2 separate regions of the Homo sapiens genome follow, and region 1 is linked to region 2. Evidence: fine-mapped expression QTL. A gene starts in region 2. The other region holds a variant in brackets. All regions are shown on one strand. Distances are from middle to middle.

Region 1 (11,609 bases), 33 kb before region 2:
TCATGGCAGCCTCTACCTGCCAGGCTCATGTGATCCTCCCACTTCAGCCTACAGAGTAGCTGGCACCACAGACACATGCCACCACACTCAGCTAATTTTTTTTATTTTTTGTAGAGACAGTGTTTCACCATGTTGCACTGGCTGGTCTTGAACTTCTGGACTCAAGCAATTCACCCACCTCAGCCTCCCAAACTACTGAGATTACAGGTGTGAGCCACGGTGCCCAGCCATTTCACATTTCTGATTTTAAAAAATGCCTATTAAACATTTTTCAATCCCAGATTAAGGTAACCTCACCTAAACCTCATCCCAGTTCATTTCTAGCAATGTACAATTTAAAATTACTGTCCTTTAAAATTCTAAAATCAAAAATTATTCGTTGGATGTATAATTTTTTATCTCTGAATGAAAATACAGATATTTAACACTAGAAAGGACATCCAAAAATTGAAGTGATTATGCTTCTCTTTCTCAAAATTGTCCATCTTGTTAAATCTGAAGGGCTAAAATTATACTTTGAGTTCAAATTTTTAAAATTTTTTCAATTTATCTTTTTATTTAACCTTTGAACTTACCAATTACATGTTTCTGCAGAACAAGATCAATGATCCGTAGACAGATATTCTCTAACTGCTGGGTAATCTAAAGATAAATGTTAAATATTAAGCTTAAAATTATCATAATTAATACATAAATTTAATATTGTGCCAATAAAAATATCAAGAGGACATTTTTGAGACGGTAACTTGACAATTCTAAACTTCATGTGAAAAACTAAACATGCAAGAATAATCAGAAAATTTTGAAAAATAGACTGACAGAAATGGGGGTAAAATCCATAACAATTTATATTAGTTCCTTACCATATATTTTATACCAAAATAAATTCCTAATAGATAAAAGATTTCAGTGTGAAGAAATAAACCATAAAAAAATAGAATAAAAAGAATTATTGTATAATCCTGAAAAGGGAAAGTGACTCAAAGCCCAGAAATAAGAAATGAAAAGAATGAAATCATCTGACTAAAAAATTAAAGAATTTTGCATGGGGCATGGGGAAGTAAAAAAAAATGAGTGAAATATTTTCAAATGGTATCACAAAGATCAAATTCCCCTTACATAAAATTAGTGAATTTTTAAAAATTGAAATACAATAGAAAACAAATGTGTTTCTTTTTTTATAATCTTTGCCTGTGTTTATAAAAAGATGTTCGTTATAATACATGGTAAGAGTACAAATTCCAAGTGCAACATTAACAATTTTCACCTATTAAGACTGGAAATGATCACAATTATGGGGCTGGGAAGAAAGACCCTGTTGTATATTGATTTCTGGAGTGTAAATGGTATACACAATGAAGGACAAGTTGGCAACATCCTTCAAACTTACCCATACAAATGACGATGCAAACCAGCAATTCCACTTCAAGGGATTTACCCTTCACACATATTATGTGTGCAAAATGACACATAAAAGGCCATTCATTCATTTCAGCAATGTTTGTGATTACTAGCAATCAAATGCCCATTTAAACAAGAGACAGTTAAATTATATCCACTAAACCGGGACTGGTGAAATAAATTTGACACATCATACAAGGGAATATTAAGCAACCATTAAAAATATATAACTTTATTGATTGACATGGAAGGATCATCAAGATATATTAAGTTAAAAATGGCAAATAAAAACTGTGTATAGCATGCTATCATTTTCGTAAAAGAAAAATATACACATTCACTTTTTGCTTATATGTTAATAGAAAAATCTCTAGAAGGACCCGAAAACCTGGTTTAAAAAAAAGGAAAAAAATAGCTGCTTCCAGAGAGGAGAATTAGATAGCTGGGGAGTTGAGTGAGAAGGTAAAATTTCACTGAATTTTCTTTTCACATCTTTTGAATTTTTCAACATATGTTGGTATCAAATATTTTAAAATAAGTTAAAATCTATGACGGGTTACATTTTTCGTGTAAATGTCCTATTTCAACCATCAAGTATATTCTAATATTCAACTTAAACTACTGTCTTAAGGTTCAAATGATCCAAAATTTCCCACTTTAAAAAACTGTCAATATGCTTAAAACCATTAAACAAAAATGCATATGCTTAAGCACCTATTTTAGATTCACAATTTTGTGTTTCATACACTATTTGTCAGTGTTTCATAAATGTGGTTTTTCCTTTTAAGGAAATATTGTTTTCAAAGTTTGCTTTTAATAAGTTAAAGCTCAAAATCTTGGTCAAGAGACGAAGATTCCGGTTGGTTTTGCCTGTAATTATTCATGGCCTTGGTAAAGCCATTTAGCTGAAGGCTTTAGGTTTTTTTTGTCTTTAGGTAAGGATGCTATATTAGTGTGTCTCAATTTTCACCCATGCCTCTCTTGATAATCACAATAAGTTCACCTGTCCCTTTAACATTATTTGGAATTCAAAATAAATTTAATATCAAGAGAAAAAATAAAAACAGAAAAGATGCTGTTTTGTTTTTAAACTACCCCTGCAGCTCATTCTACTACGCCCCACACACACTTGTGAAAACTGGATAAGGTGATTTCTAAGGTCTCTTCAAATTTAAAATACAAGTCCTAAGTATAAGACAAAAGAACTATCCCTTAAATTTACTTGTAATTTAATTTGGAACATCTCACTGTTACCAAGAGGACCATTTAGTTTCAATACAGAAGGACACAAAAATAAAATAATGAAAATGAAAATAAAAATTAAGCCCTTTAGGCAAATGAAGACTAGTCCAGAAGAGTATCAAGCCTTTTTTTTTTTTTTTTTTTTTGGAGACAGAGTCTCGCTCTGTCCCCCAGGCTGGAGTGCAATGGCATGATCTCGGCTCATTGCGAGCTCCGCCTCCCGGGTTCATGCCATTCTCCTGCCTCAGCCTCCCAAGTAGCTGGGACTACAGGCGCCCGCCACCACGCCAGGCTAATTTTTTGTATTTTTAGTAGAGATGGGGTTTCACTGTGTTAGCCAGGATGGTCTCGATCTCCTGACCTCGTGATCCACCCGCCTCAGCCTCCCAAAGTGCTGGGATTACAGGCATGAGCCACCGCGCCGGGCCTTATCAAGCCATTTTTAAGAACCAAGTCAGCCGGGCATAGTGGCTCATGCCTATAATCCCAGCACTTTCAGAAGCCAAGGCGGGCATATCACTTCAGGTCAGCAGTTCCAGGACTGCCAGACCAACATGGTGAAACCCCTTCTCCACTAATAATACAAAAATTAGCCTGGCGTGGTGGCAGGCAGCTACTCGGGAGGCTGAGGCAGCACAATCACTTGAACCGGGAGGCCAAGGTTGAAGTGAGCTGAGATTGTGTCACTGCACTCCGGCCTGGGCAACAGAGCAAGACTTGTCTCTGAGCAAGACTTGTCTCAAACAAATAAACAAAAAAAAAAAAACCAAGTCATCTTCCATTGGCACGTCATAAACACAGGATAAACCAACAGCTACGGCTGGGCACGGTGGCTCACACCTGTAATCCCAGCACTTTGGGAGGCCGAGGTGGGCGGATCACGAGGTCAGGAGATCGAGACCCTCCTGGCTAACAAGGTGAAACCCCGTCTCTAATAAAAAAAATTCAAAAAAATTAGCTGGGCATGGTGGCGGGCACCTGTAGTTCCAGCTACTCGGGAGGCTGAGGCAGGAGAATGGCGTGAATCCAGGAGACGGAGCTTGCAGTGAGCAGAAACTGAGCCACTGCACTCCAGCCTGGGTGACTGAGTGAGATTCTGTCTCAAAACAAAAAAAAAAAAAACCCACAAAATCAAAAAAAAAACCCAACAGCTACATGGTTTAACAATGCTATTTAAAGTAGTAGTAGCAGCCAGGCATGGCGGCTCATGCCTTTAATCCCAGCACTTTGGGAGGCTGAAGCGGGTGGATCACCTGAGGTCAGGAGTTCAAGACCAGCCTGGCCAACGTGGTGAAACCCCATCTCTACTGAAAATATAAAAATTAGCTGGGTGTGATGGTACACACCTGTAGTCCCAGCTCCTCGGGAGGCTGAGGCAGGAGAATTGCTTGAACCCGGAAGGTGGAGGTTGCAGTGAACCAAGATCATGCCACTGCACGCCAGCCTAGGTGACAGAGTGAGACTGTCTCAAAAAATTAAATAAACAAATAAAAGTAGTACTAGCACCTGCTTCCTAAGTGCTCACCTTGTAAAACAATAATTGCCATCAGTGCCAAACAAGTCAACTTGCACTCACAGAAGCAATGAACAAAAATCTAATTTGAGTTAAGGAGAGGCCATGGGATACTTGGGAAGCAGCTGTAGGTTTTAAATGGGGATAAACTGATACATTATCAAAATGATGTGACTACAAACCCAAATGTACAACTTACTAGCTCTGGGACCATGAGCAAGTTTCTTAAATCCACCTGAACTTTGTTTTCTGCTTCTGCAAAACAGACTACCATTACCTGTGCTAGCTATGTCATGGTGGCACCAGTAAGATCATATCAGCTGATGGATGTGAAAGCACTAGATAAATAGCTGTATAAAGTCTTATCCCAATAACACTTTGGAATTCAGTTGAGTAAATATGCTTTTCAGCTCTTTCATTTATTCCTTTCCATTTTTACAGTACTTGTTATATCAGAATTCTGTTCCATTACCTAACACTTGCCACTGTGATTGAACTGCTGTCTGTCACTCTCTACCAAGAATTCTAGATTGTTGGTTCCCAGAAAGCTGGGCTCATTTCTTATTCAATTTGGTATTCCCCAAGAACCTAGCCTGGCACATAGCAGATATGATTAACTGAACTCAAGTTAATATAAAGGGATATACTATATACTTTATAATATTTACATTATAATATTACAAATATTATGATGTAATATTATAATGTTACTCAGTCATTTTAATATGTTTCCATAAAATGTGAGGGCAATTTTTAAAGCCTAGCAACATAACTAAGTAGCAATTTAAAAGTGGAGACTTCAAAATTCATGGCCACTGATCACATAAATTTCAGTTAAATGCTACTATTATATCATAAACCACAAAGAAATCTCACCTCTTTATGATCTTCTACAACTGTTAAGATAGTATCAATGGTATGTAAAATTCCCATAGCCATTACTGTTTTGTCTTCAACTTCTTCATATTCATCACTTTGAAGAACTTTGCCAAATATCTCAGCCTATGAAAATAACATTAAAGTATTCCGCAATTAGTAGTACTGTTACGTCCCCGCTTTACAAAAGTTAGCAAAATGGCAGTGTCACACATCTGAAGTCTGCATTGCTCAAACTTTGAAGTCTGCACTTTGCTGACTGAATCATCTCTCTTCTTAAAATAACAGAACTTGTCATGTTTTAAATATAGCTATTTACATTAACTATTATATCCAGAGAGCTAATATTTAACTTCTGGTTGTCACTAAGCAAGTAAAATCACAATCTAGGACAAGTGAAATCAAGTAATAGTAAAAAGAAAAATGCAATAGAAGATTGAGAAGTCGAGGAATCACTTAGAAAATGAAACAAACAAAAAAAAAAAACAGACATGGAAAACAGGAGGAAAAGTTTTTAAAAAAATTAAGAGACACAGTCCAGATGTGATTCTCCATATCAGGAAATACAAACAGAAAAAAAAATAGTAAGGAGAAATTTATCAAAAAAGTAAAACAATAAATTGCCCCAAACTGAAGGAAATGAGCTTCCTGATTCAAAGCCCAGAAATTAAAACTTTAGAAAGCACATATTATAAAATTTCAGAATATTCTAGATGAAAGAAATTATCCTAAATGTGATTAAAGTCTAATGAACTATAGTAATATCAGAATAATTTTTTTATCAATATTTCAGTTACAGTCATGCATCGCTTAACATGGATATATTTTGAGAAATGTGTCGTTAGGCAATTTCATCCTTGCTTGAACATCATTGAATGTACTTAGGCAAATCTAGATGGCATAGCCTATTGCTCCAAGGCCACAAACCTATACAGTTTGCTAATGTAGTGAATACTTAGGCAATCATGACACAATGGAATTATTTGTATCTAAACATACAAAAGGTACAGTAAAAATACGGTATTATAATCTTAGGAGTGCACCATCGTATATGCAATCTGTCATTGACTGAAATGTTGTTAAGCAGCACATGACTGTACAAATAAAACTGAACTCCATATTTTGGAGTTTATTTAGATTACTCAAGGTTTCTAAACCAAATTAACATAAAACTGCCCGGTCTTACCAAGTGTTGGGTCATATCAACAGCAATTGAGGCTACCTCTTGACTGTATTCACATATCATCTTCTGGATGACATTAGTAACATCATCATTTTCTGTCTCTCTAACAATGTGCAACAGTTCCTGCATAATAGGCCTCACATGTGGCTTCATATATTCCTTAGCTAATTCAATAAAACAAACAAAAGTAATAAAAATTACCATGCCCAGATGATAAAAGGAATTAACTTGGTCACAAGGTCAAGTGACCCAGGGTAATACCTAAATCAGGTTCTAGATACACACTTGCTCTGTGGTAAGTTACAAAGCTGTACCTAAATAATGTTCACCAATATATCAGTTTCCCAAGAGTAATATAAGGATAAGAAGTCCTGCACAGGAGAGAACTGTCCTGTGCAGAAACTATCCCAAAATACTAATAGCCCCCACTGAGAAATTCTAATTATACATACACTTGGTCATCAGAATGACTTGGAAAACATGAATCAGTTCTCATGACAAGTTATAAAAAATCATGTACGTGAAGACTATCCCGAATACTGATGGGGCCCCTTCCCTGCCCCAGGCCATCTCTACCACCCTCCCTTGCCATGTGTACAATATCCAATCCTCCCACTGAAACATTGCTGAATAGAGGCAAACTACGTTCACGTTCTTCATAAAGCTGAACTTACTTTCAAAGGTTTATTTGAACTTTGATCAGAAC[A/ACT]CTGAACAAATGAGACGTCTGTTATCACTCACTAGAAATACTACTTGCTACTTTCAAAACTAGGGGAATCAGAATCCCAGAGGTGAAAGGAATCATGAAGTCATTCAGTCCAACTCCCCTAAACTTAAATATGTGGAAACCTGAGCCTTGACAGATCACACACCTTGCCCAGGTTTCCATGGCAAGTTAGGAGCAAAATCAAAACTGGGCCCAGGTCTCTTTATGCCCAGCCTATCCTAGGGCCCCACAATGATTAACATGTTTCCTAACCTAAAATTCTGAAAACTACAGTCAATAGGAACACCTAAAAAGGACAAGAATAAATTCCTACAAAATTCTGAGAGGGCAAAACCTCAGAATTCCAAACCCTGAACCCTCAGACATGGAGATGCATCTTCATTAGGGAAGAAAGTAAATGAAATTATTTGAGAAGATGTCTAAAAGGTATTTTGGCTTTACCTTGTATCTGGTTAGAAATTAAAGACTGAAGAGCAAGGGCAGCTTCAACTTTGACAGGCATCTCTTTATCTTCAATCAGGCTCTTCTTCGCTAATTCAACGGCATTTCTTAGATTGAGCTCATTATGGAACTTCAAAGAACTAAATGCATGAAGTACCCAGCAAGACTGTATTATTAAAAAAGGTAAGTAGGGAGCTATTAGGATTATAGCATTCTGTAATAATATCACAGATATAAGAACTTCTTAGTAAAATATCAATTCTATGAAGAAATGTTTGCTTTTGGGGTAACACAGTAGCCTTAGTTTCTAACTTCTACATCCCCCTTTTTACAAGTAAGGCATTTTCATTACTTCTAAATTACCCATATGCAATAACATTTTTCATAGGAAAGAGAAAAAGAAGCCAAATATGTCTTTGACAAAAATCTATTTACGCTTTTAATAAATATTATAACTCATAATTAATTTGTTATATGTAAAAGCAACTCCAAACCAGTATCTGAAATTCATTTGTCACACTTAGGTAAAACATTATTTTCCCTTACACTAACTGGTTTAGTAAGCTTCCTTTTTTTCACTCTCATAGGTACCAAAAATTTTAAACCTGGTATAGATGATCACATTTTAACTATTAGACCACAGAATCATTATTATATTTTACTCTCTGTGTGCATCAAACACAATCAACAGAAATTAATTCTAGTTACTAAAGACTTTTAGCAAGAGAATCACAATTCATATAACTTCTCAAAGGTAGGAGCCCCACTGTAAAAATGCTCATGTGCCCTCAGCGTCCCTAGTCCACATTTGCCCAGATATTGCGCTAGTAACTATTATTTTATAAAATGCTTTCTAGTGTACAAGGCATTGTTAATATATGTTGTTTTTAGCAAGACATTTTTGTGTTGATATATTTATAAAGAGAAATGCTAGGCTCTTGAATAAAAGTCCTGTTTCTATTTCTCCATAAAATATATTGATTCTAAAAGAATATACACATAGAGCACAATTTCACATGGATTATTAATCTCTCCATTTTACTAAGGCAAATCTACCTAATATACTGAAAATCAAATTCAAGTTCTTAGCCAATCTGGAATTTCATGTCATTTTATACACAAAATAAATCCATTTGTGAATTTAAATTGTATCACTGCTATAAAATCACCTTTCTCATTTCATGTTTTACATATGCAGCAAGTGAGGCTAGGGTGACAAATGAAATAAAACCAGCAGGAAATAAAATCCATAAATATTTTCCTTTTTTTTTGAGACAGGGTCTCACTGTTGTCCAGGCTGGAGTGCAGTGGCACGATCTCAGCTCACCGCAACCTCCGCCTCCCGGGTTCAAGCAATTCTCCTGGCTCAGCCTCCCTAGTAGCTGGGATAACAGGCGCCTGCCATGAAGCCCAGCTAATTTTTTGTATTTTTGTAGAGACAGGGTTTCACCATGTTGGCCAGGCTGGTCTCAAACTCCCGATCTCAAGTGATCCGCCCACCTCAGCCTCCCAAAGTGCTGGGATTACAGGCATGAGCCACTGCGCCCAGCCTATAAATCTTTTTCTTTAATAGTCTGTCCTTTATTCAGCTGATGTGACCATAGGCAGACATTCTAATTGACTCTATTTCATCTCAATATGTGGCAAAAGGTCAATTTATCCAAAAAACATTTATTTGAATAATTATCTTATGAAGATTTAAGATACATAACAGAAATATGAAAAACTTACTCTAGCTCGAAGATATCCCAGGTTAGACAATAATAATGGAAATACATGATTTTGTAGAAACAGCTCCATTTGGTCCTTGAATAAACTCTTCTATTAGGAAACAAATTTCAACTTATCAATTTCTTTTTCATACGTAAGAATCACTTCCTAATCAAGTGTGTTTACTATGACTTGCATTTAATATACTTCTAATTTTGTAAAATTATTTGACCTATATATTGCATGTTTTAAAACAAGACAAATATTACCTTATATCAGTTTGATATTGATTGATTTTGTAGACATAAGATACTTTGTATCCCTTTCACATATCAATAGTTTCATACTGAAAACTTTAAACAGTCAAATTTTCTTTTTAATTAAAGAAATAGATGACAGAAAGGAGGATAGTTGTGAACTCAATTATCCAGAGGTAGTCACCAGCTTTAAATTAGCCATAACTTTCATATTCTCTCATTTGCCTGTACTTTACAATGTTATTAAGTAAATTAAATTTTGATTATCTTAACCTTCAGTAAAATCTCAGCTAGGGAACCAATCACATGCAGGGCTCCATCTTTCTTCCTAGGGTCAAAGTTCGGGTCTGTCAGGATTTGATAACAGAATGCCATCATTTTTGGCAACACCTAAAGAAACAGAAGAATCCATTTAGTCTACATGAACTTTCATTGTCTTACTATAGTATTAACTATGATGCACAAATTTTTAAAAATAAAGCCATTTTATTATGTTTTATCAAGCAACTATAAGCTCAATAAGAAAAGTATAATTTATTAAGAAAACGAAATAACCATGATACCCCCTTTCCCCTCACCAGGAGAGGAAAAAAAAAATCCTTAAGGTGACAAATTATAACGAATAACAACATAATTTCTCAAATACTAGGGATATACTAGAGTATCAACTCAACACAGGCCACCTTTCAGTTTTGGATTTAAAAAGAAAAATGAAATACCTCTTTTCTTTTCTTTGCAGCAGTATATAAGAGAGTCTGGGCTGCTGTGGTGGGAGAAGCATAATCTTCAAAAATATCTAAGATTTTAAAAGGTTAAAACCATGTTAGTGAAAATATAATTACTTATTCTAGATTTTAAACCTGACTGACCGCTATTCCAAACCAAAAAAATAAAACCATCCACATATGACACTGCTTGACAGTACTAAAAAGGTAAGGATATACAGTGGCACCACAACATTGCTGTCTCCTGCACAAAACAATGTTCCTCAAACTCTACAGGTTGTCCTTTCAAACTATTATATTGAAGAAAACAATGCATTTACACATCTGTTTCACTGAGAACAGAAAAAGTGCTTTATTTCTATCAAAAAACAACAAAAATTCACTCAGCTCTTACTATGTGCCAGGTACCATTCTAGACCCCGGGGATACAAAGATCAAACAAAAAGGTTCTCACGGAGCTTATGTCGTGAAACAAAGAAACACATTATACATATATACACACATAATAAGTCAGGCTAAGAACAAATGTAAAATAGGGTAAAGAGACAGAGTGACAGAGTATGGGGTGCTAGTTTAAATAGGGTGTTAGCAAAAGCCTCTCCAACTCTGTTAAGGTAACATTTAAGCAGAAATTGAATGAAATGAGGGAGAAAGCAATCCATGGATAAAGTACTCCAAGCAGGTGAAACAGCAAGTATAAAAGCCTTGAAGGACTGCTAGGACCATGCCTGGCTCTGTCGATACGTAAGTTCAGCAGGTTTTGTTGAATATATACCTATCTAAAACTTAACATATCACTTAATACCATGAACATTTTCACAAGTTTCAGAATAGGCAGTTTTACATAAGAAACTGAAGTCTTGAGAGGTATCTGATAAGTCCTTGTTTAAATACAAAAGATAAAACCAAATCTAAGTCTACCTCAAAATATAAAATACAAACATAATAAGAACATTTTTGGAGTACTGTACTTACTCTGTGCCAAGCAGTATGCTACAGTTTTAGAAGCATCTTGTATTCTATGCTAAGCAGTTAGTTCATGTGTATTATCCCATTTAATCCTCCCAGCACTATTATCATCACCCGTTTGACAGCTGAAAGCACTGAATTTTAGAGAGGTTAAGTAACCTGTCCACAGTCACACAGCAGGTAAGTGACCAAACCAGCATTCACACCCACGCTATCTTAACATCAAAGCCTGAGCTCTTGTTAGTTCTTACCAAATCAAAAAACATTATTGGGGGAAGTGAGGAGATGTTGGTTAAAGAGTAGATAAAAAGAATAAACTAAAACATTATTATTAATCAGTCAATACATTTAGATAGGAATGCTTTGTTTCACGTAAATAATTGCAAGTGCCAAACATATAAAAAGAAAATGCAGTAATTGTTCTTCCCTATGGTTACCCAAAAGTAAAATACACATATCAAATAAAAGCCACTGCATTCCAGTCTACAGAAGGAAACGATTAAAGAAAACTCACTTCAGCTAGTCAGTCTTGAGTTACCCATATCCGCTTTTAAACAATAAAATGTAA
Region 2 (11,609 bases):
AAAAAATAATTCCAACATCAGTGTTTTTCCATAGGATTTTCTTTTTTATCTTAACCACAAAGTGATCTTTCAGGAAATCATATATAGTGTTATAAATCTTCCCAAAGCTTAATATTTCTTTATCTTTTTATTCTATGTTCAAATCAAATTAAATACTTTCATCAGCATGTAGATTATGACCCATTTCTCTGAAACTGTTCATCTATCCTTCTACGTGAACACATGGAAAGGCTAATGTTCACCTAACGTTAATGATGAGTAATGATGGCCATTTCTGAGTGATGAATGTTGGGTAGTTTTACTTCCTTCTTTGTATTCTTCTAAATTGTCCAAATTACTTACATGTATATGTCACTTACATAACAAGTCTTTTTAAATACTTATTTTTAATTAGCTATTGTCGTTTACCTCCTTTAGCTTTTGATTATTATCTTTTGAAAATTCATGATACTCTAAGGCTCTAATTTTTAACCTTCTGGGCTCTAATGACCAGTCCATAAAAAAACAAGATAAAAGAACGATGTACAACATCATGAAACAACGTAAGATCCCACAGACTTAAAAGTAAGTTTCATGTTTAAAACATAGTCCTGCTCCGCAGTCACCTGGGTTAGGAACATCTGTGCAACACATTACCTCCATGATTTGCCACGTAACAGAGCTCGAATTCACATATATAAATTCATGGTCTTAATCTATGGGCCCAGAGGCTAGGCTACCAGAAATCATAAAACGTTAGAGAGATCAGCTATTAAAATTGAGAAAAATAAGGGCAAAGTTACAGAGGCAAGGAATTGGTGGGTAAAAGGGAGAGGAGGAAAAAAAAGAGCTAGAAGATATTTGAGAGCTCAGTATCTACCTCTAAATTTCTGGGGAAAAAGAAAGTGAGTTTTGAAGTCACTGGAAATACTTCATGAGTGCTAGTGCTTCTGAATTTTTCAATAAATTACAGATATGTAAAATTAAAATAAAACTCTCATTCTACTCTCACCTATAAATAAATTTATAAAGGATAAAAAACCAACTCACCTGCCTGTCGTACTGGGAATTCCACATGGTCAGAGACTATAATCCGAAGTAAACTGGGGGCAAAATTGATAATCTTGTAGGACTGAAATTACAAAGAAATGTTTTATAAAATAGGGCAATATAAGTGAGTAGCTTATAAGTTAGCACCGGTTACTGAATACATTACTGTCCAAATAAAAGAAAAACTTTTAAACTGAGACAAACCCTTCAAGGCAAAATGAAGATTACTAAAATACTTCAAGTCAAAAAAATTTCCTGAGCAGAAACTGATGAATAAAAGAATGTGAACATTTTTATGATTTTTTTTAACATATTGTCAGAATGGTCTCCAGAAGTAGTATACCAATTTACACTCCCAACAGCAGCATATGGTAGTGTCCATCTATCTAATACAGGTATCATCATTCCTTTGAAACTTTAAAATTTTATTAATGTTTTAAATTGCATTTTCTCTATTACTAAGGAGGTTGGGTGTTTTCCTCTTTGTTGGCTGTTTTTTCTACAAATTCCTTACTCCCTTTATCCTTTTGTAAATGGAGTATTTGCTTTATTCTTAATAAATTCTAAGAGCTATTTATGAATTTAAAATCTCAATCTTTTATTTGACCTATACATGGCAAGTATTTCTTCCTAGATTATTTGTGCTTCAATTTTGTTTATGGTATTTTTGACAAACAGAAAACAAAAAAACAAAGGCTACAGGAAATAGGAGACCCAACAGAGCAAAACAGAGAAGATAATGTTACAAAGTTGAGCGTGAGCAATGGAGAGAAGCCAGTCCAGATTGGAACAGTGTGACTCACGAGATGGGGTTGAGCACACTGTCATCACCAGCTGCCCTCTACTGCTGTACTATCTTTTACACTTAATGCCTAAGTGAGCCTGTGGGGATGAAGCTCCTGCTCTGCCCTGTGGCCTGGGTCACTTCACCCCACAGGTGTGCTCTACTATGATCTGCTCCTGAGTTTGGCGATGGGGACCTTCAAAGCAAAAAAATACAGAGCATCCACTCCTTCTGATCACGTTATATCCAGATGTACAGTACCTGGACTATATTACAGTCCTGTCACATTCCAGAGTCCACATATGCCTTTGTCCACTGACATTCATTTGAAAAGACTCAAATTCCAGTGAGGCCAAACCAGACAATGACCCAGAGAGTCTGTTCAGCTCACCCCTCTCCTCAGAGCCTGGATCTGTGGGGGCATCCCTTTCAATACACAGCTAGGTTTGGGCATATTATTCATTTTTTTAAATTAAAATCACATCTATGAAGGTAAGTGTTTGATTAAAAAATTAATTTGGACACAACTGGCATTTTAAAAATATTAATCTTTTTCATCCAAGAACATTGTGCTTTCCCAATCTTTCTATATCCTTCACAAAATTTTGAATTATAATTTTCTTCCTTTCATCCTGTGTAGTCTTCAGATCACAAATCTGTGGCATGTAAATTCTTTTTTATCCATAATTGAAACCATCAGAATTTCAAAGCAGTTTTTAAGAAAACAGATTTGTTCTAACAACCGTTGATAGGAGGCAAAATTAACACAGATTCACCCAGCCTTCACCTTCTACATATGTATTATAACTCATGTTTATCTTTGTAAATACTGAAAGATCTTGTCATGAATCAAAGATTAAAACATCTATATAGTTTATTCTAATCATAAAAAAACTGACTTCCGTTATTTGTTTAAAAATCTTATTCCACACATACAAAATAACCTTTACACTTAAATAAATGCTACTTATTTGAAAGTAATATACCTATTGCAGAGACTTTTATGTCAACACTGTTGCCATTGTACAGATTTTGAAACTCCTCTTTTTGCAACTGTTTGCCATTTTAAAAAATTTCAGAAACCTTGTCTTCTTTCAGCATTGATTCATTCTATATTAACTTGGCCAGCTAAAACATTCAGAGATATAGTCAGATATATTTTCATACTACTTTACTCAGAAATAGTTACTCAATTTCTTTGTGCCTCTTCAGGCTTCGAGTTTCTAAAAAATAAATAAGACTAATTTCTCAATGATTTCCTGAGGATATTTTGTATCTGTGAAGTTTTCTGCAAATACGCAGTTTGCTTAACTAAATTCTGCATTTATGAGAACTCATAAAGCAAAAAACTGATGTCTCCTCCCATCCTCTGACTCACTGCTCCGCTGCATTAACCTTTCTAGTCCTCCAGCATGCCAAGTTGAGGGCCTTTTCTGAACCGATATTCCCTCTCAGTCCTCCAGCACGCCAAGTTGAGGGCCTTTTCTGAACTGTTGTTCCTCTCTCTGCTCTTTGCCTGGCCCATTCCTTCACAACATCCAACTCTCTACTCAATGCCATTCTTCAGAGAATGGCTATACATCCCAACACTCTTGCTCGGGCTTTACTCTCCACAGCACTTATGACCTGAAATTATATTAGTTACTTGCCTGTATCCCCAGCTCCATGGAAACAAACTCTTATACCAATATCTGCAACATAGTAACTTAATAAATATTTCTGTGCTATTTACATAAACAAATTATCTTAATAAAGGGTAATGAAAATTGCATGTACACATGCATGGAAAGCAGAGATTCAAAAGCTTGGCAATCAAAGTAAAAACTTATTTCCCTACCGAGGCCATGTGAAGGATAATTTATTAAAAGAGGACACCTTTCTGGATGAATTACTTAAGCAAGGTACCTACCCATTCCTATTCCTCTATGCTGCCTCTAATGGGACTTCTGGTCTATAGAAAATGAGGAAGATGTATAGGGTTCGCTCAATATCCTGAGATAAAACTACAAATACATTTTCCCACAGAAACAATATCACAAATAGCAGTCAGAAAACTACTCACTAGTAACAGAAAAATGCTGGCCTGAAAAAAATATATAGCTCCAAATGAGAATTTATCCATTGGAATATAGGCTGTGGTGCAGAAGCTGCTTATTTTTCTAAACGGCAATTGACAGATCCATCAGTATACCGCAGAAGCTGCTCCCATTCCCTATGCAGAACATACTTGCTGAGGGGAGACCTAGACTAAAGTCGAAGAGGTGGACCATAACCACTTATGGTGATTTACCCACTCATTTATCCAACAAAGTCGGATGTTACAGTGGTGGCAAAGGACAAGCAGGCAAAACCCATCATCATAAGCATGTTTTACTACACTGTTAGGTGACATTATATTTTGTTCTATTTACAGCCAATTCAAAAAACCTTAAAGCATTTCACTATGCTTTATATAAATTATAAATGCTAAATGAGTGGTATAGCAATAAGCTACCTTTAGAAATTGCTGGGGAAACCACGGTCTGTGATGAGGTGGGACACTATGGGGCAGGGCAGAGTGATGATGGAATGGATTTGGATTGAACTACCATCAAGAGTCTACGGCCATACCACCCTGAACGTGCCTGCTTTTGTCTGAAATACCATGGGAAAAAAAATAGGATTGGGTCTTAAATGTCTCCTAGTTCTGCAGGCTTTCTCATATACTTTTTCCACTTCTATAACATCAACTGTACTTATATACTGATGAATCAGAAAGAAATGAAGGTTAGGTGAAGGGCAGGGAAGTGTAACCTGATATCAAAGGAACACCTGGCCTCATTGTGAGAAGGGGGTCATAAACAGGCCAACTCCCCTGTTCATATTAGTAGACTGCAAATTCAGCTCCTGCTTTGTTCTTCCTAACTAACCCCTGGATTACTATTCTTCCAGCCAGCCAACATACAGTACTTTTACTCTGCAAAGCCTGGGACAGGTACTGACTTTAACTTCCCCCTATTCTAAGTGACAGTCCATTTCTTTTTCAGGCACCAGTGCATTATCTTTGGGCATTAGTTCAACCCAACCTCCTCTCCATTGGCAGTGTCTTCACTCTCCCTTTTATCTCTGGGGAATCCTGCATTTATACCTACTCCAAACTCCACCTAGGTTTCCTATTAAAATAATCCCTTTCAAAGATTCCCAACACGCAGCTTTTTAAAGTCAATTCCAACAGAAACATTTACTTAGGACAGTCACACTTCAGTCACACTTCGGGAGGCACAGAATCACCTGGGGGAGCTAGTTAAAATACAACTGGTCCCACCCCCACAGTTTCTGATTCGTTAAGTCTGGACTGAAGCCCCGTAATTTGCATAATTTGTAAGTTCTCAGGTGATGCTGAAGCTCCAGGTCCTGGGCAACGCTTTGAGAACAGCTGATTTTGGAATATTTACATTTTACAAGTCATCACAACCTAAAACAGCTGTTGCTCCATCCCAGTGGTAGCTCTTAATCCCTACTTTTTAGTAAGAGGTCTGTGATTCTTAAGTACCGGTAGGGAAGAAGAAATAAGCTGGAGTTTGGGATCATTAAAATTTTGAAGTGTGGGGGTAACGCTGGAAAGACGTCAAGGCTAATTAGGAAGAACAGGAGACGGAGAAAAGAAAGAAGTCTTACACATTTTAGCATTCATAAGAAATTTCTCCAACACATCTTACTTTGATGTGTCTTAGATAAAGCAGTATCACCATGAAAACTGCCTATTCTTCCCAGAGCACTCTCCCAACAGCACTGCCCAGCGCTCCGCAAAACTCGGCCAATCGGTGTCAAAACAGTCCTGCCAACCCGACAGGAGGAGGCGGTGGGCAGCGTGCTCCACAGCAACACCTAAAAAGGGCTGGGTTTGGAAAAAAGCTGAACTCAGATTTGAACTGTAAGTAAAATTCCCACCTGCTCCCCAAGTCCGCGCACTTAAGGAAAATAAATCACACCCTGAAAACACTAGCACAGGTTGCAAAAACTGCTTCTTGCGGACCAAGTAGGCAGAACAAACTGCCCTGGAGAAGGGAGACGACACGAAAAGGTGCAAAGGTGGCCAACAGGTGCGCGAGCTGTTCGGCAAAGATCCTGGGAGCCCTGCTCCACTGGACCGGGGGGCAGCGGGGTCGGAGAGCGGGACCAGCCGTGAGGCGTCAGCCCCAGCCCGGTGGGGGTGAGGACGAGGGGCGCCGGGGAGAGGGAGCCCGGCCAGCCGGCAGGGGCGCCCCTTCGGCGGAAGAGGGTCGCCGAAGACCCTCTCCTCACCTGGTTGAGCTCGTTCTCGGCTGCAATCCGCAACTTCGGGTCGATGGTGCCCTTCAGCGCCTGGATGATCCGGTTGAGGTCCATCTCCCCGGGTGGGGGCTCCGCGGCCCCCGGAACAGTAGGCCGGACTGCAGCTTTAGTTTTCTTTTGACCCTCTCAGCCTCCTCTTCCGCGACCCCTGGATTACCTCACACCCCACCCCCCGCCACCGTCGCCACCTGCGGCCACTTGCTGCGCCACTCTGACTCCGCGCCCCCTGTCCTCCCTTTTTCCCCCCCACAACTCGCTCTCCATTCACCGTTTTACGACAGCCGGTGGGAGGCGGGAGAAGGAAGAAGAGGAAGCAGAGCTTCCTTTACGGCGGCCTCTTCCCCCGGGCGTGATGCTATGACCGCCTCCCGTCGGCGGCCGCCATGCTGCTGTACGGAAAACGGCCTAGGCTTCTTTCCCGGAAAGGAACCCGCGCTCCCGAACTCAGGCAGGCGGCCGCTATGCTTCCGTACGGTAAACAGCCTCCCGCCTCTTCCCAGGTGAGGAAACTTGAGCTGGCCGGGAGTCTGCTTACAGCTGCTTCCAAATTAAGCATATCTGGATGGTGTGACACTTTTTGTTAGTCCGAGAACTGTATGGGCATCGCAACTGGGCCTGTTCCAAGATAGACTTGTTGGGACCTTCAAATCATGTACCTTACAGGAGGACAGGGTTCCTCCGTGTGTGGGAGTCATCGTTCATTCATTCATTCGCTTTCACTGAACATTTGTTAAACATATATTTTTGAACCAGAGTACTAGGATTTTTAGGTACCACATTATAACAAGATGAATTCCATGCAAGTTAATGTGAAGGAATTCACAACCTGATAGATGAGACAAATATAAACAAAAAAAATTTACAGTGTAGAAATGATAGGGGAGTGCTGGGAAGGGAAGAGCGTGGTCCCTTTAAATGATAGGGATGGGCGAAGTGAAGTGCTGGGTAGAGGAGTGTGTGGTCCCTTGCTAGGGCTCCACGCCCACCGACCTAGGTGAGGACTGACACTCCTGCCTTCCAGCCCAAATGTTGCATTTCCCAAGACCACCCTGGCCTGCCACTCCCCCATACTGTGCCTATGAAAACCCCAGACCCTAGCAGGCAGGTACACAGGCAGCCAGACGTCCAGAGGAGCATAAGGGTGGAAGAAGAGGAGCTCGCTGGCACATCCGCAGGCCATTCACGGGCAGAACGATGCGGAGGTTGGCCTGGGCAGTCGGAAAAGAGCCCGGGCCGCCAAGCGGCCTAACTCCAGAGGAAAACCATTTCCCTTCTGGGTCCCTCATCTGCTGAGGGCTACTTCCACTCAATAAAACTTTGCACTCATTCTCCAAGCCCACGTGTGATCCAATTCTTCTGGTACACCAAGGCAAGAACCCAGGATACAGAAAGCTCGCTGTCTGTGCGACAAGGTAGAGGGTCTAATTGAGCTGGTTAACACAAGCCCCCTAAAGGCAAACTGAAAGAGCATCCTGTAACACACACCCACTGGGGCTTCAGGAGCTGTAAACATTCACCCCCAGACTCTGTCAAGGGGTCGGAGCCCCACAGCCTGCCGGTCTGTATGCTTCTCTAGAGGTCTGAGCAGCGGGGCACTGAAGAAGCGAGCCACACCCCCAATGCACGCCCTGTGAGGGGGACAAGGGAACCTCTCCCATTTCAGAAAGACAAAGGTCACAGAAACTGAAAACTACATCCCTGAGAGTTTTATGAAAAATTTTCAGACCTTCTCAAAAATGTAGTGAAAGGTAAGCAGAAAAGTTATACTGTTTCTATCCACTGTGGCCATATCTGGCGCCACAATTTCAATGGCATGAAAATATCAAGGAGCTGGTTCTTCCTGAGGTTAACCCAGAAGAGAGGGTTCTAATTACATTTAATAAAGATGATGATGTGGGCAAAACACAGCTGAGGGGCTGTGATCTTTTCAGGAGCAGATAATTAAGATAGATTGGGTCAATTAACTGAGTTCAATTGAGAGAGTAGAAAACATGTGGCTGAAAACTTGGTGGCTTGAAAGCTTCCCCCTCAGTTGGATGCAAAAGTGCTTCACAGTGAATTTAACATGTCTAATTGCTTCCAGTATTGCCCCTCTTTAATCCATTATTCACACTATCATCAGAAGAAAGTTTCTGAAAAGTTAATATTACTATGTCTCTTCCTTGATTTCTCATCAATTTCAAAATAAAATATAAACTTAGCACTCCAGAGTCTTATGAACACTATTTCACTAAACCACTCTCTTGGACATCATGAATGTCTAAAAAATTTTTTATCTCTGAAAATCTTAACTCCAATATCCTCTTTTATAATTAGAACTAATTCTTCCATTTCTCTCTTCCTCAAAAATTCTAAGCTTGTTTTCCAATTCAATCACTACTTCAGTTCTTAGTCTATCCATTACTCACTACACATCATTCTCTGCTATTAAACCCCCAATTCAGCTTCTTAACTCTAGCCTTGACCCACTGTGCAAACTGATATCAGATGTATTCTTTAATCAGATGCAACCATCCTATTCCTATTCCTTGCCTTTAATCAGCAACATCTTCCATTCCCTCAGTGGCGTTTCAACTCTCAGGACTCTTCTCAAGCTCCCTACGCCTTCTCACCAAACCCTGCAAAGATGAGCAAAACCCTCAGGCTCAACTCAACAACAAATTCATCTCCGCTTATCCCTCTTCATCTCCTCTGCAGTCTGAACCCCATTCTCTCCCATCTCCTCCAGGACCCTGTTCCATAAATCTCTCCTCTCTTAAATACATTTTTTCATTAAAATAAATTTTAGTCATTATAATGTGCTCATTGTTGACAATGTGTAAGTTTTTTTCGTACTTTTTCAGCCTCTTTTCCTCCACTGATTCAACCTCAGCCTAAAAACATTTCCCCCAGCAAAAAAATAATCTTCAGTAATGCTAATTATTGCTCATTCTTTTCCACTTCATTCCAAAGAATGGTCTTCATTCACTGTGTCAGCTTACTTCCCATTCATGCTTCAACCACCTATCCCCAGGCTTCTCCCCCTCATTTCCCACTAAAACTGCCAAGCAAAGATGAACACCGACCTCTTTAGGGGGTATACCAACTGCAAGAGACATTTTTAGTTCTCAACTTAAATTTTCTCTCTCTCGCGCGCGCGCGCGCGCGCGTGTGTGTGTGTGTGTGTGTGTGTGTGTGTGTGTGTATGTATAGAGAGAGAGAGAGATTGAGAGATTGGGGGAGGGCGTCTCACTTCCATTGCCTAGGTTGTAGTGCAGAGGCATGATCACTGCTCACTGCAGCCTCGACCTCCTGGGCTCAGGTAATTCTCCCACTTCAGCCTCCCAAGTAGCCGGGACTACAGGCACATGCCACCACGCCCAGCTTTATTTTTAGTAGAGACAGGGTTTTACCACATTGCTCAGGCTGGTCTCAAACTGCTAGGCACAAGCAATCTGGCAGCCTCAGCCTCCCAAATTAGGATTACAGGTGTGAGCCACCACACCCAGCCTCTAATATCCGGTATCATATTTCATACTATTTTTAAATTATCTCTTTTCTTGTTTTCTCTTACAGAATACATTCCTAACCCTTTGATTACTCAATCGCCCAAGTCTTCGACGCTTCTCAGGACTCTGTCCTCAGCCATCTTCTCTTTCTCATCCACCCATTTTTCAGTAATTTCATCCACTTACATAACTTTAACCATCAACTAAACAAAGATAGCTTACAAAACTAGTTGTAAGATCTCTTCCCTTAAACTAAATATATCCAAATGCCTATACATTTCTACCAATATCTATCCCTCAAATCACTTAAGGCACATGTCTAAAACTGAACTCAGCACTGAAGATGATAGATTGGAGAAGGGAGAGACTTAAGGTAGTTATTCCAATAACATAAAAGGAGAGATCAAAAACGGTGACACCACCAAACGCTGGTGAGGATGTACAGAAACTGGATCACTTATATGTTGGTGGTAACATGTACAGTGATACAGCCTTTCTGAAAACAATTGGGCAGTTTCTTTAAAAAACTGAATATGCAACTACCATATGACACAGCAATTGCACTCCAGAGCATTGGTCCTAGACAAATGAAGACTTGTGCTCATAAAAAAAACCTTGTGAGTGTATATGCAGCTTTATTCATCATAACCCAAATCTGGAAACAATCCAGATATCCTTCAGTGGGTGAATGGTTAAATAAACATGGTACATCTATACCATGGGATACTACTGAGCAACAAAAAAAAAGATACATGTAGCAACCTTGATGAATCTTCTGAGAATTACGCTGAGGGAAAGAAGCCAATCCCAAAGGTTGCATCTTGTCAAATGCCATTTATATAACATTCTTAAAATTTAAAAAATATAGAAGGATCCATGGTTGCTAAGGGTTAAAGTGGAGGTGGTGGCAAGGGGGAAGTGGGTGTGACTGTAGAAGGGCAATATGAGGAATTCTGATGATGGAAATGTTCGTTTCTTGACTGTATCAATGTCCATATCCCAGTTGTGATGTTGTACTATAGTTTTACAAGATGTTACTGTTGAAGGAAACTGGAAAAATCGTACATAGGATCTATCTGTATCATTTCTTACAACTTCATGTGAATCTACAATTATATCAAAATAAAAATTTTACCCAAAGTACGTAATTAAAAAGAGCTGATGTTCCCATGAAAACTTTGTATGCTTTGGACAGACTCACTGAAGACAAGTTACTAAAATACAATGCTATCAAATTAGGGGTGGCCAAGAAAACAGGAAAGATCAGAAAAAGCCATGAGCTCTCGGATTCTGCTCTCAGATTTCTTGGCAAGCGTTTTAAAATGATTTTCCCTAAACTATAATTTATGTTCAACTTACATATGACTCATTGTTTGAATCTTTTTTTTTCACTTTGCATAATGAGAGGCTTTCTATATTTATTGATGCCCTCAGCTCGTTTCAGGTAGAATTTGAACCAGTGATATTGTCTTGTATTTTCATGGTTTGAAATATGCCTCCCCTCTCTGTGCCTGTTTCCTCATCTGCTTCCAAAAGCTGTTTTAGGGACTAGATGAGATAAGCCCATGGGACATGTGCAATAAATACATCATTGTAGTCTATTTAAGAGAAGAGAGGCCTTATTCAAAATTGCTGAATCAGACATCATCTCACACTATGCCTGGCACACAATAAACAATCCGTCAGCACTGGTTGAATGAGTAAGTGAATGCATGTGAGAGAGAAGGGGTCCAAAACAGGATATCCACAGTAGGCATGAAGGCCAAAAGATATAAGCCATTTCACAGGAAGAATCAACAGTAATTCGTGATGGGTTAGGTATACAAAGTAACTAAGGTAAGTCAAGAATGATTTTAAAGCTTCAAGCTTTGATGACCTATGGAAGTCATTAACCAGGGAAAACATAACTAGATTTTGGAGGAAAGATGAGTTAGCCTTTGGATGTATTGAACTAGAAGTGCTTACAGTTTACATGCCTAGAGATTTCCAGTGAA

What was found.
Region 1: its variant is fine-mapped to the expression of IPO8 in cerebellum (GTEx, PIP above 0.99).

Annotation. Positions count from the first base shown.
Region 1 is chr12:30,656,109-30,667,717 of GRCh38, forward strand. IPO8 (importin 8) reads right to left here. Exons shown (of 25, transcript NM_006390.4): 11 at 10,067-10,143; 12 at 9,621-9,737; 13 at 9,112-9,201; 14 at 7,381-7,546; 15 at 6,219-6,379; 16 at 5,033-5,158; 17 at 576-642. Among named protein-coding and RNA genes, the nearest start is that of IPO8, 34 kb to the right of the region's middle. The variant A/ACT (reference allele first, on the strand shown) is at 6,922.
Region 2 is chr12:30,689,467-30,701,075 of GRCh38, forward strand. IPO8 (importin 8) reads right to left here and starts at 6,403. Exons shown (of 25, transcript NM_006390.4): 1 at 6,098-6,403; 2 at 1,030-1,111. The coding sequence starts at 6,181. RefSeq lists a silencer at 6,153-6,202 and an enhancer at 6,293-6,792.